3 separate regions of the Homo sapiens genome follow, and all the other regions are linked to region 1. The links come from fine-mapping of genetic effects on gene expression. A gene starts in region 1. Each other region holds a variant in brackets. All regions are shown on one strand. Distances are from middle to middle. Region 1 holds the start of JDP2 (Jun dimerization protein 2). Region 2 has its middle 29 kb from the start of JDP2-AS1. Region 3 overlaps JDP2 (Jun dimerization protein 2).

What was found.
Region 2: its variant is fine-mapped to the expression of JDP2 in blood mononuclear cells (TOPMed, PIP above 0.99). The same link has a PIP of 0.9 or more in whole blood.
Region 3: its variant is fine-mapped to the expression of JDP2 in whole blood (TOPMed, PIP above 0.99).

Annotation. Positions count from the first base shown.
Region 1 is chr14:75,425,712-75,430,933 of GRCh38, reverse strand. It overlaps JDP2 (Jun dimerization protein 2), which reads right to left and starts at 2,912. Exons shown (of 4, transcript NM_001135048.2): 1 at 2,682-2,912. JDP2-AS1 (JDP2 antisense RNA 1) reads left to right here and starts at 3,279. Exons shown (of 2, transcript NR_184172.1): 1 at 3,279-3,464; 2 at 4,223-5,222. RefSeq lists silencers at 2,264-2,433, 2,494-2,673, 2,924-3,193 and enhancers at 2,859-3,416, 3,384-3,443, 3,464-3,793, 4,044-4,143.
Region 2 is chr14:75,396,175-75,401,396 of GRCh38, reverse strand. No RefSeq gene overlaps it. Among named protein-coding and RNA genes, the nearest start is that of JDP2-AS1, 29 kb to the left of the region's middle. The variant A/G (reference allele first, on the strand shown) is at 1,981.
Region 3 is chr14:75,469,283-75,474,504 of GRCh38, reverse strand. It overlaps JDP2 (Jun dimerization protein 2), which reads right to left. Exons shown (of 4, transcript NM_001135048.2): 4 at 398-5,215. The coding sequence ends at 5,030. Among named protein-coding and RNA genes, the nearest start is that of JDP2, 44 kb to the right of the region's middle. RefSeq lists an enhancer at 1-191. The variant C/T (reference allele first, on the strand shown) is at 3,244.

The DNA of each region.
Region 1 (5,222 bases):
GCTCTGGCCAGGCCTCCCACAGCCAGCAATAAGTAAAGAAACACAGTCTGAAAATTCCAAGACTGGGTCGCTAAGGCATTTGTCTCTGCTGAGTTCCGAGAGGCCAAACCACACACACACACAAGAACGCATGTGCACACACATGCACACGCACACACACATACACAGGCACATGGAGCTTGGCAGCCCCTAAGTTCCAGAGCTGGTAATACAAGCCACGGAACCGACTGCCAAGACAAGCAACAGAATGAGCCAGGCCCGGTTTCATTGGCCACCATACGCTGCATATGGCCCGGGACGCAGCCAAAACAGTGTTCTCACCCTCCTCAAAGGCATAGGAGACCCTCTGTTTTCAAACACACCTCCACAGAGCCTTAATTAAAGGAAAATGGAAAAATAATGTGCCTGCTGCCCTCCCCTGCCTATATAGGTATGCACACACACATACCCATATACACTCACTCCATTTTTCTCTTCCTCCCATTTCGGTTTCAAACATAATTCATTCGCATGGAAAAAAAGCAAACTGCATCCTGCAGCAGAAAGGCAGAAAAGAATGTAGCTTGCCCTCAACCCTGGCTCTGATTGCTCAAGTTGAGCTGGAGCTGAATGAATACAGAGCAGGCCGGCCTAGAGTCGGCGTTGGCCCCTTTCTTTCCAGAGTGGAGCTGGAAACAGACACTCGAGAGAGACAGCCCATTGCAACACCAGTAGCCCCACGACAAACAAGGCCCAGAGAGCCTATTCCTGCCAGGGATTCTGCAGGTTGGAAAAAAATGCCCACACATCCTACAAACAGGTAGGGAGATGACAACAAACCCAGGGAGTCAGGAGGAGCATTCCCTGGTAGCTGCAAAAGTTAGGCAGTGGATGAGTGGGGAGACCCTTATCCAAACCCTTCCTAGGGGGCATTGTCACCACTTTGCAACACATCTCCTTGGAGGTGGCTGCAGCCAACCTAGGAGAAAAGCCAGAGGTCTACACACCCATGACTTCCTGCAGCCCACCTAGGAGAAAAGCCAGAGGTCTACACACCCATGACTTCCTGCAGCCCTTCAAATCACACAGCACCCAGCTCTTCAGGAAGATTCTGGAGCTGCCTGCAGCTCTGAACCAAAGCCAAAGTAGAAGGGAACAGAAGAGTCTTTGAGAAATCCATCCTCCCTGCTCTAAACAAGGCAAAACCTTAACCACCCAGAGGTGTGAGAATAGATTTTGCTTCTCTTCCTCGATCCTCAGGTTTATACAAAATCAGAGCCATGCTCACACCTGATACCTGGTTAAACTCTCCCCTAGAAACCTGCAAAGGAAGATAAGCTATCCATCCAAGCTGCAGCCAGATTTGCTGGAAAGGTAAAAGCAATGGGAAGTGTTTTTTAAAACCCTCAGGGAAGGAAGGTTGGGGGGAAGGGAGATGATACGCGAATGCAGTTTCTACCAAGGGCTTAAAGGACGTTTGGGTACAAATGTACCCAAACATGGTTCAAAGCTTCCCAATTCCTGATGCTCCTCCAATTAAGACCCTAGGGAGAGACCACCAAGATTTAAGCCTGGGTACACACGCCTAAGCAGGCTGCAAGCCCTTTCTGAGATATAGACCTGAGCACATTTGCCCTGAGCACACGTGGTCGGGCCATAGCCCCATGCCCTGGATTCCAACAGGGAGGGCAGCACCCTGGGCAAGGGCCACGCCATCTTGCAACTGGAGATGACCCAAGGGGGTCGGCTGATTTCTCCTTCCACCAGCCTCTCCATCCCTGCAAAAGAGCCAGGACCTCCCCATCTTCCCCAGCCTCCTCATCTTCCCTGCTCCTCCTACTGACCCAGGCAAAGCCTGGCTCTGCCATCCCAGGGTCCAGGGATCCAGGTGGAAGGCCCAATCCACCCCTACACTCTCCCACCCCCCACTGCACCCCTACCCCTCGACAACCTCCTTTGAAGGGAGGAGCAGAGGAGAGCCTTCTAAGCTGGGCTGGGCAAGGGAGAGGCTGGTTACCTACAGGAGCCTGCTTGCCTCCTTATATAACCTGGCGTGGGAGACAGGAGAGCCCAAAGGGGACCCCGGCCACCCCTAGATCCCCTCCCAGCCCAGAGCTCCGAAGCAATGGCCATGAGAGAAGCTGCCTTCATTGGATGGAAATCCCGAGCCCTTCTCAATACTCTCCTCCGGGTCCGGGTCCTCCGGGAGTCGCGCTTCCTCACTGCCAGGAGGTCCTTGTCATCCCTCCACAATCTAACCCCGACCCCAACCCCGCACCTCCCTGGCCCTTCACCCTCCACCTCCACCCGCACAGCCCATCTCCGCGGGCACTTTTCTCCCCACTCACCCCGCCTTCCCCGCCGCCCGAGGAGAGCACCTCCCTGCAAACGGACGGGGGAGGAGAGCGCGGGAGGGAGAAGGAGGGAGCACCCCGGCTGTCCAGGGAGCGGACGGAGCCTCCCGTCCCGGGGCGGGAACCAAAAGGAAGCCTCAGGCTGCCGGGCGCCTCGCGGGAGGGGCCCGGCTGCAGCGCCCGGCGCGGGGAAAGCTCGAGGTCCCTGGGCTGCGGGAGCCTCCCCGCGGGGCTGGGCTGGGGCTCCTCGCGCTCCGCCCGTGCGGGGGCGGCCGTCCCAGGTGCCCGCGCCGCGCCCTGCCCCGCCCCGCCCGTCCCGGCGCCCCCAGCGCGCGCCCTCGCACCCACCGTGCAGAAGGTGCGGGGGGAGGCGGCGCCCCCGGGGCCGGGGCCCGGCTGCAGGCGCCGTGCCCGCTCCGCGCCGCTGCCGCCCGGCCGCGGAGCTCCGCCCGGTGCCCAGGCCTGTCCCGGCCCGGGAGCCGCCGCGGCGCCAGCCCCGCCGCCGCTGCAGCGTCCGCCGCCGCCAGCGCCCCCCGTCGCGGCCGCCGAGCGTCCCTCCCGCAGGCTGTGGCGGGCGGCGGGACGGGTTGCATCAGCCCCGGCTATATAGCGGCCCCTGGGCGGCGGGGAGGGGTCGGGAATGCGGAACCGGCCGAGCTGCCAGCTCCAGACGTCAGAGGGGGACGGAGAGGAAGGGAAGGAGGGGACCGGGGAGGAGGGGGTGTGGAGCCGGCGCTTCACACCCACTGACCTTAACCTCCCCCGCCGCCTTGGGCGCCCTCCTCCCGCGGCCGCTCGCGCTCCTCTCCCCGCGGGGGCGTCCCGGGTTCCATGCAGTCCCCCGGCTCCGCCACCCCACGGTGCAGGAGCGCTCGAGAAAGCAGGACGCGGCGAGCGGTTATGTAAGCGCACCCCCCGCGCACCGCCGCCCGGCTTGTGCCCGCCAGGCAGCAGCAGCCGCAGCCCTAGGAGAGAGACGCGAGAGGCCGGAGCCGGGGGAAAAGTCAAAAGCCCCTTCACGCACAGCCTGTGTTAACCATGTACCTCAGTCCCGGCGCTTCCCCCACAAACTGAGAGCGACAGGGAGAATTTCCGCACAGTTTCATCCTTGGACACTTCAGGACTGAGCGGGTGAGGAGGCGATCTCGCCAGCCTGCTTTATTTTTCGGTGGAGAAGGATGGGCTGAGATGAAGGCATTTGGGGACTCCTACCCCTACCCACCGGCCCCCGCCAGCGCCCTTAGGCCCCGAGACGGCTGGCTGCACCAGCCTGACCTCTGCTAGGGCTGCAGCCTGAGACCGCGGCTTGCTCTACTGCTGGCGCAGTTTGACCCTTGGGCTTGTACCCTGCTCCAGCGGGCTTCTCCTTTCCACTCCGGACACAGCAGTGAGCAGACCCAGCCCTCAGCAGACCCCAAGTGGCCTTCTTCCCCGTTCCAGCTTCAATAGCCAACCCCACTCCCACCTTCCATCCTTCTAGAGAGGAAATGGTGAAGGGGACTCCAGAGGGAAGGCGACATCCATGGTGCCCTCCAGTATACAAAGGCAGAGACACAGAGCCCTCAGGTAGAACGGGGTTCCCTAGATGGCATCTCCTACCTCCAGAGCTCCTGGGTACCCATCGAGCCCCCTACCTTCTGCCTAAGCCAGATAGGAGTGACGATTTTTATACTCAGCGACTTTCGGCCTCCTTCTGAGAGTGATGTCAGGTCATCACCCATAGAAGAAAGGAAGTGAAAGAAAAAGTTCATGCCTTCTTGGAGTGCAGATGCTCAGAGTGAAAGAAACAACAAGACTTGAGACAGATGGGTGCCATTGAGCAAACCCGAACATGCATGTCTCTCTCATGTGAGTGAGTGCATGAGACTTTATTCTCCTTATTTCCCCAGTGCAGTGAAATCTTTCTGGATAAAAGAAGTGGGCTAATGGAAGGAGAGACAGACCAAGTCCCAATGACATTGCCTGACCATTTTCACCTTCGCCATCAGCAGTCTCCCTCACAGCATTGGTGTGGGCAGGTAAGAAGAAAGCAAGGCCCTGAAAGAATATACATTGGAAAATGAGCAGTAATTTGATACTCTTGTGGAAGAGCATGACTCTTCGCCCCAGAAAGGCCAATGACACCTTTACTACAGCGTAAAGATCAAAGCCAGGGACTGTGAAACTGCCTCATGATGTTTCTCCCATGAGACCTGTGTCTGGATGTTTATATGGAACAAAACATGGAACAGAGGCAATAGTACTTGATGTGTCTTCAGCTGGGGCTTTGGATAAACTAAACTGATCTATATTCAGGGACTAATAATTAGGGTGTGTGGTTAGAGCGCGTCCTCTCTAGGGCCTGTTTTGGACTGTGGCTGGGCCACCAGCAGTCCTACTGGGCCTTTGCTTCCCCCACAAATTAAATATGTTACAGGGGTGGCACCAAGGGGTGACTTGGGAGGCCTTTAGTCCCCTCTACCTCTCTATAATCTCCATTAGATCTTCTCTGTTATTTGCTATTGATGCTTTTCAGTTTCATATAGGACGCTATAAGAACACAGCTTCAAGGCCTCCCTTCCGCCACATACTCCCTACTAGGCCCCTCTACGTAGTCACTGCCTCTGGGAGTGGCTAGAGGGAGAAGCCATAAACTGGGTCCTTTATGCAGACATTGGATGCTGGATGGAGCTGATTTACCACTGGCTCTTAGGGACAGACAAGTGACTCAGCCTAAGGCAGTTTGAATTTAAGTTTCCTATCACAACTAGAAAAGTCCTGATTAACACGCCCAGCCCTAGTCAATGGGCTGATTGAGAGATCGTCACATATCCCAAGAAAATCTCACAAGACTGGGAATTTTGTGGATCTGCTGGAAAGAGAAGCTGCCAGAAGCCCCACGTGAAAGGG
Region 2 (5,222 bases), 30 kb after region 1:
AAGCCCAGAGGAGGCCGAGATAAAAAGAACAAGGAAGGGCCAGGCGCAGTGGCTCACGCCTGTAATCTCAGCACTTTGGTAGGCCGAGGTGGGTGGATCATGAGGTCAGGAGTTTGAGACCAGCCTGGCCAACATGGCAAAACCCCATCTCTACTAAAAATACAGAAATTATCTGGGCGTGGTGGCATGCGCCTGTAGTCCCAGCTACTCAGGAGGCTGAGGCAGGAGAATCACTTGAACCTGGGAGGCGGAAGTTGCAATGAGATGAGATCATGCTGCTGCACTCCAGCCTGGGTGACAGAGTGAGACTCCATCTCAAAAAAACAAAAACAAAAAAGAACAAGGAGGAAGGGCTTTGGAAAGTTGGTAAAAGGTTAATCTATTTGCCCTCCATGCCACTTAGCCCCTGACCATCCCAAAACACAGAAGTCAACATCCTTGGGATGAATTATGAGCAGAGGGAGAAATTCCAGGGCAGGGGAGCAGACATCAGGAAAACTGAGATCCTTCTTCTGAAAGGACATAAAAAGTTAATATTTTTGTAAATTGGAACCCAAGCATTTCAGGCCTGGTGGGATGATAAGGGGTTAAAGCTTCCACGGAGCAAACCTAAAGTAGCTTGGAAGGGTGTGGCCCCCAATTTGATTTATTTTAGAAGCATGGAAAGCCAATGAATGTGCTTCTGGCCACAAGACAGGACAGGTGAGAAAAAAGAAAGGAAAGAGGCCTGGTTTGTGTTTCCTGGAAAGGGAGTGTCGTTACAGCTCTCCTGGGGAGCACACACACGCCTCTCGTAAATGTATATGAGCCCTGATTAGTTGGCTCCTGCTCACCACCCTAGCATGTTCCCAGTGGCTGGCTCCCTGGCGTTCTGGCACTCAGGGCTGCCAACACCTGCCAACAACAAGGAAGCTGGGTATTGGGGCTGCAGCTTTTGGAAGCTGCTTATGAAACAGATGACTAAGCCCTGGGGGCAGGGGGAGGGTGCAGCTCATGCCTAGCTCAGCGAGAACTCAATCCAAGTCAGCCTTGACCCGGTGCCAACCATGTGCCAGGCTAGTCCCTGGGGATGTGAAGATGACGAGGCATGGTCCCTGCTCCAAAGGACCAGGCATGCCCATAAAGAATTGTAATCAGAGGCATGAATCTGCAGAAGAGGAGAATACAGGGTTTGGCAGTGGACATGATTTCCCAGGGGGACAGTGATAGAGGCAAAAGAAGGGGGAAGGGGAGTTTCTCCATTCATGTAGTCAGGCTAAGAGTTTTAGCCTCTTCCTAAAGCACACACCCTCTTCCTCATGCCCTCTTAATCCAGTTAGTCTGGCTTCTGTCACCCAAGTGGCTCTCAGACTCTTTCCTCTTCTCCTGTCTTGGCTCAGGTCCTCATTTCTGGCTTTGGCCCAGGCTCTTTGCACTCAGCACTGCAGACAACTTCCTACAATTCAGGTCCAGTGGGCTTGCCCCCCTCCTTGAAGCTGTCTATTGTTTCCCATTGCCCCAGAATAAAAGCTAAGCCCCAAGGTCCTTCACATTGCAGCCCCAAGCTGCCTAAAGCCGAGGGCTCAAGGAGGCTTCAGTGTAGGTTTGACTCAATAGCACCACAATGTCATCAAAACCCCTTCTTCTTCTTGGTGTTTTCCTCTCTGCCCTCCATGGTGTTGTCTTCATGCTCAGGCAGGCTTTTCTCATGGTGAGAAAACGGCTGCCACAATTCCTGTTTTCACACCTATGCTCCATGCTGTATAGAAGGAGAAAGGGAGAGAGCTTCTTTCCCTGAACCTGCCAGCAAAGTCTTCTCCAGTCTCTCAGGTCAGAATTGGGTCATTTGCCCATCTGCAGGCAAGAAGGGATTTTGCTGATTAGTCTATACTGGGGCTATTTACCCCAAGCCTAGGCCAGGGTGGAGTCGACTTCCTCCAAAAAATATGGGAAGTGTAGGGAGGGTGGATACCCCAAGGAAAATGGGGTAGTTACTGAGAG[A/G]GAATGGATGCTGAAGAGGCCACCCTTCCAGCATCTCCTCCCGACAAGCCCCACCCAGCTACTTCTTTTTCCCAAACACGTCATGTTCTTTGGTGTCTCCCAAGCCTTTGCACATGCCTTCCCTTCACCTGGGATGGCTTTTCATTCCTCTTGCTCAGTGAATGCCTACTCATTTCTCAAATGCTTGCCCATCACTTTCCCTATTCTTTAGATACTGCAGTCAACTTAAGGACAGGTTCTTATTCACTCCTAGCATAATGCAATACCTGGCAAAAAGTAGGTGCTCAATAAATGTTTATCAAGTTAATGAACACTGCTGATGAGACAATAGCAAATCCCAAGTTCACAACAAAGAGCTAGTATGTCTTCAAAATCTCTTCCCAACATCTAAAATGTAACAAATATAAGTAGAATTGTAGTGTATAAAGCTAGGATGGGTTCAGGTAAAGAAATGTTGAGGGGCCAGAGTTTGTCCAAGCATCTCTAGCATCATCCCAGAAAAAGGGCTCCCTCCCAGGCTGGCAGGAATGTTTTAGTTCTCCTGGCAGGTTTGTAGGTCCTGAAATGGAAAGGGACCTATCAGGCTCTCATAGTCCGATCCATTAATCTTCTAACCATTTAGACTAGCCTACTGGGAAGAGATTGAAATGGTCAGCCAACTCAGGCACTCTCATCTGGCTGACAATTATAGTCTTACTGTTCTTGAATAACTTGGCCTTCTGGTTTACCAGAGAATCTGCATTTCATTAGCATGGTTTGGTCTCTGAGACCAACACTATCAGTTGCTTCCTCGCTATTTTCTTCCTTAGTCACAGAATCCCTGAATTTTAGCCAGCGACTTGGTCACCTAGAACACAGAGTACATTTCTCAGCCTCCCTTGCAGCTAGATAGGGCCATATGACTAAATCCCGACAAATGGATGTAAATAAAAGTAATATGTGTGTAACTTTTTGGAAGTGCCATGAAAAGGTGGTAGTGTGTCCTTCTTCCCTTTTCCTTTTCTGCAGGCTGGAAGGTGGTCGCACTGGCTGGAGCTGGAGCAGTCATCTTGGACTGTTGTGGAATTTGGAAATATAGCCCATGCATGGTGGACCAACAGATAGAAGGAACTTGGGTTAAATATTGCACAAAGAGCCATATCAGTAGCCCTCAAGACCTACCTAAGCATTTACATAAGAGAAATGCATTTCTCTCTCTCTCTCTCTCTTTTTTTTTTTTTTTTTTTTTTAGAGATGACGTCTCGCTTGTCTCTTAAAGTTGGGCAACATAACAAGATACCATTTCTAAAAAAAAAAATTAGCTGGCACAGTGATGTGTACCCATAGTCCAAGGTACTTGGGAGACTGAGGTGGGAGGATCACCTGAAGCCAGGAGGTTGAGGCTGCAATGAGCTATGATCACGCCACTGTACTCCAGCCTGGGCAACAGAGCAAGACTCTGTCTCTCTTAAAAAAATTATATTAATTACATGTTGAAATAATAATGGTTTAGCTATATTGGGTTAACATATGCTTTTTACTTTTTAAAATGTTACTACTAGAAAATTTTAAGTTACATTTATGGCTCACACTATATTTCTGTTGGACAGTGCTTCCCTGGGCCTTGTCCCCTCTGTCTGAACTGATAATATCAGATTACTGAGCCATGTAAAGCTGAGAGATGATTAGAAACTGAGCTCACACTCACCCACCAAGGTCTAGACTCTAACTCTGCCTCTGGCTCTGTCTGTCTGTCTGTCTGTCTTTTGCTCACTGGAATCTCTCACCTTATTTGTTAAATTACCTTATCTGCAACCAGAATAGGTATAAAGCTCAGCACAGAGCATGGGTCAGCCCAGAAGGAATGAGAACAGGAATCAGGAGGTGCTCAGGAAGTCTGAAAGGAATGTCTCTGGGATCCAGGCTTCAGTACCTAGCTAAGGCAGCAGACCACCCACAGGTACATGATCACTTTTATCAGCAGCAGAGAACCACATTTCAGCCATACCAAGCCTTCTTGAAAGGCTTCAGAGAGGGGTTTTGTATTTGGACCTCCAGGAGAAATACAATACATACACTTTCAAATTGTCCATTGATCTGAAGGAGAAAAAGGAGAATGTCCACCTGCTTGGGGTGCAGTTCTCCGTGAAGATTTTCCGATAGGGCTGTGTTAACCCATGCCTTAGTCAGCAGAAGCCATCTTGAACTTGTTCAGGCAATACCAAAGAAAGCTTCCTGGAAGAATCCTGGGATATCCATGGAAGCCAGGGCCAGCAGGCTTTCTCCAGGAATAGAAGCCCAAGAACTGGAAAGGCACTGGGAACCAGGCAGTATCTCTGCATTTTGAATCTGCAGCTCTGTTTTTTTCTCCTCTCTGCAAACCAAGCTGCTTTTCTTCTCAGTCCCCCAACCTCACCCCACCTACACACTCACACATGCACTTTCTTTCTTTTTTTTTTTTTTTTAAGACAGAGTCTTGCTCTGTCGCCCAGGCTGGAATGTGGAGTGCAGTGGCGCCATCTTGGCTGACTGCAACCTCTGCCTCCTGGGTTCAAGCAATTCTCGTGCCTCAGCTTCCTAAGGAGCTGGGACTCAGGCACGCGCCACCAAGCCTGGCTAATTTTTTTGTATTTTTAGTAGAGACGGGGTTTCGCCATATTGGCCAGACTGATCTCTAACTCCTGGGCTCAAGTGATCCACCCACCTCGGCCTCCCAAAGTGCTGGGATTACAGGTGCGAGCCACTGTGCCTGGCCCAACACTTCCTCATTTGTATCTCTTCCACTCAGGGCACCATATCAAACCAACTGGCTATCTCTTGGTCATCAAAATTCTAATAATCTGATTGACCAAGCCTTGGGCAACTGTTCACCTTGGTTTATGGAAACCAGGTGGCAAGGTCACATACTTTACACAGGCTGTCGGAGACTCATCTCTTTGGGTGACTTCCCATGCTACCTATGAGCTGGGTGGGTAGCATCAGAAGTATCCATCAACAACCTGGGGGCAATCACTGATGTGCCTTATGCCAAAGGACATGGTCAGCATCACCGTCATCCCCATCATCTGTCCTAATCACAGCCAACACGTTACTTCATTCAGTCCTCTCAACAGCTCTATTTTACAGTTGTAAAATTGTGATTGTTCCTATTTTACAGATTTAGAAATTGAGGCATCACATGACCAAGGTCACACAGTTAGTTAAGGGCACAGCTAGGAATCAACCGCAGGAGATCTGCCTCCAGTCTGGGCTCGTAACCACTG
Region 3 (5,222 bases), 44 kb before region 1:
CTTGCCTTCCAGTCCAGAGCTCCACTTGTAGGCGCAGTACAGTTGGCTTTCGAGCAGGGCTTGGATTGAAAAGTCAGCATGTAAGGAAGAAGTCTAGAGTCCAGATGAACCTTGAACACGCCTTAATTGCCCCTCCCGTAGAGAGCAGGGACCAGGATCCACTGAGTGTAGAGCAGAACAACATTCCTCAAGGTGTCCTCACCCCGGGGCACCCTCCCGCAGGGCTCAACCAGCTAACCTCTTTCCACCCTTTGAATTGTCTCTCTCTCTCCCTTCAGGCATATAATTAAATTTGCATAAATTCAAAGAGCATATGCTGCAATCCCATTGTAATTTCAGATTTGTTTTTATTTCCTGAGTTTGCTAAGGCAATAATAAAAACAAAACCTCCTATTTGTATTGTGGCTTGTTCTCTTTTATTGCAAAGAATATCAAATATACAGAGGAGTGTGGAGAAGATAGCCCACATCTGTGCACACATCACCCACCTCTGAAAAATCCTGTCATTCTACATTTGATGGGGATTTTAAAAAAATAAATGAAATGTTATGTGTATAGTTGAAGTTGAAGTCCAGCGTCCTACTTACCCTTGCAGTGGCATCCCTAGTTCCCTCCTCTCCGCGGCCCTCCCAGGAGCACTCCCTATGACTGATTGTGATATTGACAGCATTCTTGTGCAGGCTTTTATACCTCTATTACCCAGATGTGTGTGTAGCCATAAACAATAAAGTATCAACGTATACATTTAGTTAGAAATATGACATAAGTGGTATCCTTCCGCAGTTCACTCCCCTACCCTCCATCTCAACAGTAGGTTTCTGAGATTTATCCATATTGATACATATAGCTCTGGTTCATTCTTTTTTACCTGTTGAGTAATATTCAATTTTAGGAAAATACCACAATTTATTTGTTCTTATGCTGATCATCATTTAGGTTGTTTTCAACTTTTTAAAAATACAAACAAAGCCATCAGTGAACATTCTTGTACATTTCCTTTTGCCCCTGTGCTAGAGTTCCTCCCAAGACTAGGAGGAAAACTGCTAGGTCAAAGGATGCGTTTAGCTTTAGTTTTACTGGTTATTTCCAAATTGCTTTGCACAGTTTCTCACTGGCAGCATATCTAAGTTTCCTTTAATCCACATTTTTTTTGTTTTGTTTTTTTTGAGATGGAGTCTCGCTCTGTCACCCAGGCTGGAGTGCAGTGGCGCAATCTTGGCTCACTGCAACCTCCACCTCCCAGGTCCAAGTGATTCTCCTGCCTCAGCCTCCCGAGTAGCTGGGACTACAGGCACGTGCCACCATGCCCGGCTAATTTTTTGTATTATTAGTAGAGACAGGGTTTCACCGTGTTATCCAGGGTGGTCTCAATCTTCTGACCTCATGATCCACCCATCTTGGCCTCCCAACCTTTAATCCATATTCTTACCAACACATACTTGTTTCTGCCCATCTGATAGCTAAAGCGTCTTGTCTTTCTCAGGCCATGGTTGCATTCATCAACTCGATTGATTCTCATAGGAACCCTGGGCAGAGGTGGCACAGGTCTTATGTGTGACCACCTGGCAGGAGGGCACACTGAGGCCCAGGGAGGGAATGATGCATCCAGCATGGCTGGTTGTGACCAGTCAGGAGCTGAACAGATCCAGGAGTCTGCGATCCCAGGCATTCATCACACCATAGGGACCACGTACAGGGTCAGAACACAAACTTGGCAGCCCATCTTTACAGAATAAAACATATTTAAATAACCTGTACTATGTAGATATCAATAACTACCGACACTAACAGAGGACAAAATAATTACCATTTTAGGGAGCTTTTATTTCACAAAACACTTTGTATATCCATTCCTTTTTTGATCTTGATAACTCCATAAAAAGACTTGGATTATTACTGTTCCCACTTCACAGATAAGAAAAATGAGGTTCACAGCTAGTCAATAGAAGATTACATCATGAACCCGTTTGCCTTTAAGGTGTGTCTTCTGTGAACACCCTTGGAGATGGTTTGCCTGAGACTTGGGAATTCTTAACATGTACTGTGAGCACAGGTGGGTCTGTGCCATCTCTCCCGGCTTCCTGCACAAGTTCCCTGGCAACTGAGGTCACACCACAAACACATTTTTCCTCTCATGGGGAGGCTCAGCCTCAGGTTTTATGCACCTGAAGTCAGACTGACAATAACATCTTGGCTCTGCCACCTAACACCTGTGACCTTGGGCAGGTTACCTCTTCTGTGTGCCTCGGTTTTCTCATCTGTAATGTTGGAACGCTAGCACCTACCCCCCAGTCAGGGTGCACAAAGCAGTTGAGGTCACACATGCACAGTGGCAGGTGCCCAGAAGAAACTCAAATGCTGGCTCTTGCAATGAAGCCTATAATTGTGACTTCTAGCCACAGGAGCAGCCAGTGGTCCTGGTGAGGAAGGCTCCGCACAGCACAAGTCACTGGTGTGGTGACTTTGGAAGACAGCCCACCTGCACAGGCTAAGGAGGCTCTATTTTGGAGATGCCAGCTCCCGGTGGCCAAGCACAGGACCAGGGAAGCCACAGCCAGTGGCACACGGCAGTCCTGTAAGAACATCCACTAGGTCACTGGAGGGACCCTGGTAAGTCCACTTCATTTTTCTCATGGCTTGAAAAATATCAAAGGATTACAGCGCGAGGGGTTCCTGATGCAGAACTGACACTGCCTCACCTGCATCGTCCGGACCGACAGCCTCAAGACCCCCGAGACAGAAGGCAACCCGCTGCCACAACCTTCTGCCACAGCTGACAGTGAGAGGACCAGGTCCTGTTTCTAGGGCGGGGTGCAGGGGAGTCCACACCAAGTGTGTTGGGTGGAGGGAAACTGAGAGGAGTGAGCGAGGGAGGGATCACAGGTGTGTTAATCACCATTCTCCACTTCTGCCCATCCCAGAAGGCCTCGTCCACAATTTGGGAAGCAACCCAGGTTCACTGCTGTTCTTGACACGAAGTCATCACCAGCAACTAGTTATCCTAAGTCCAGGGATGGAGGAGAAAGAACACATGATTAGAATGCAGGAGTCAAGTTTAGTTGGGTAAACTGTAGCCTTTGCAAGCTTCAGTATACAAGGAAGCTAAAAACACCTCTCCCGCCTTCCTCATGCGTGACATGCCTTGAGAACTGCCGAGTGCCAGGTACACAGCAGGCACTGAGTGAATGCCACTGAGCTGCTCCGGCCCTGGGTGGCAGGGATTCAGCTGTCGAGGTGAGGGGG[C/T]AGAGAAGCCATCCACACCCTTCCCTGGGTCAGACACACATTGACCAGGGTAGTTGGTTCACTCTGTGATCATGGGACAACCTGGAACTCTATCCAGCCTTCCCAGAAACTAAATCTATAACTGTGGCCTCATAAGCTTCCTATTCAACCATGAGGACAATCATAGTGGGTTGGTGACAGGAGGAGAGTCACAGGCCTCTGGAGGGAGAGTTCAAACACCAGCTCTATCCCTTGCTAGCTGGGTTACCTTGGATAAGTCGCTTACCTTCTCTGAGCCTCAGTTAAACCATCTGTAAAATGAGAAGAATCGTGCCTAGTTTGTGCTCTTGTGAGAAGGGAAGAGACTATGTCTGCTTGTCACAAAATAAGTCTTCAACAAATGGTGTCTGCGAGTTTAATTCCCTGGACCTCTAATTCGCCATCTGTGAATTGGGGACAAGTGCTGTTCCCTGGCAAGGCTGCCATGAAGACGAAATGAGACAACTTATGGAGCAAGCACAGGATTCACTCCTTACTGGAGGCCCCACAAGGGCAAGACTTAGGTCTGTTTCATCCTCCAGTGAATTCTCAGGGCCTGGCACACACAACAGGCCCTCAGAAAACATCTGCAGAGTGAGCGAACACTCTGACTGCTCTCAAAATAGTAACTGCAGGTGGCTTAATGTCTCTGAGCCTTAGCTTCCTCATCTGTGAAATAGGAGAGCTGTTGTGAAAATGAACAGGCCTATAGCAGAGGCTCCAAACAGTCTCCGACCCTGAGAGGGCCTTGCACCCATTCCCCAGGCAGACACCACGCAAGGCGGCTATGTAAGTAAGAGCAATGTTTACTGAGCGATACAGGACTGAGTACTATGAAGGGTTTACAAGGATGGAAATGCACCCCGCCCCCGCCCTGGCCACCCCCGACACCCAGAGACTACAGTACTTAGGAGTTACACACAACGGCCGTAACTGGTGGCTATCTGTTCATAACAAACAAACCATAGCATATTTATACTGTATCACATCGAGTGATTATAGAAATCCATATATATATTGCTTGTATAAAATCTTTTTTTTTGTAAAAAATATTAAAAAAAAAAAAAAAAAGGAAAGTATAAAAAACATGTGCAGTTGAAAGCCCTGCCAGGACAGCCAGTCTGTAAACATTCGGTGAGTATGTGCTTTGGAAGGGCGCCCGCGCCTCAGTGCCCACAGCAAACTCCAGCAGGGCTGGCGAGGGTGCGCCCGGCTGCCGCCTCCTGGGCAGGGCCGCGCTGGACCGAGGTGGGTGGGGGCATCAGGGCCCCGCAGCACGCCCCTCTCCAGCTTCGCATCAGGGCGAGGGGCAGGGCTGGGGGCAGGTGGGTTGCAGTTTCATTCTGAGTTCCATCCTCAGCCGCGTTTTGGTTGCAACTCATGGCTTTTCCTGGCTGTTCGGAGGTTCCTTGGATGGGTGCCCTGGTGAAGAGGCCAGAGAAGAGCCCAGGGCTGCCTCGTTGGGCGTCTCCCTGGCCTCGGTGCCTCTGTCCTGCCTCCTTCAAGTGGGGCCCCAGGCAGGACAACCCTACCCGAGGGTCAACTTTGGTCTCAGCGCTTGGTCCCTCTGGGTTTCCTCAGCCCGCTCTTCCTCCTGGGTGGCTGATCTGAGTTTCACAAAAAAGCTCGGCTGATGCTGGCTGTGCTGAACCTCATTGTACAGTTTTTCATGCACCAAAGGAAGGGCCATCTGGGGCCCCCCTCCTCCTCTCTCTTCGTCACTTTTCCTTCTCCTCTTCCTCCTCCTCCACCTCCTCCCAGCCCATGGTCACTTCTTCTCGAGCTGCTCGAGCAGTGGGTTGCCTTCTGACTCGGGGGTCTTGACACTGTCGGTCCGGACGATGCAGGTGGGGCGGTGTCGGTTCAGCATCAGGATGAGCTGCTGCCGCTCCTGCTTCAGCTCCTCAATCTGGGTCTTCAGCTCTGCGTTCATGAGTTCCAGCCGCTCGGATTCCTGTATA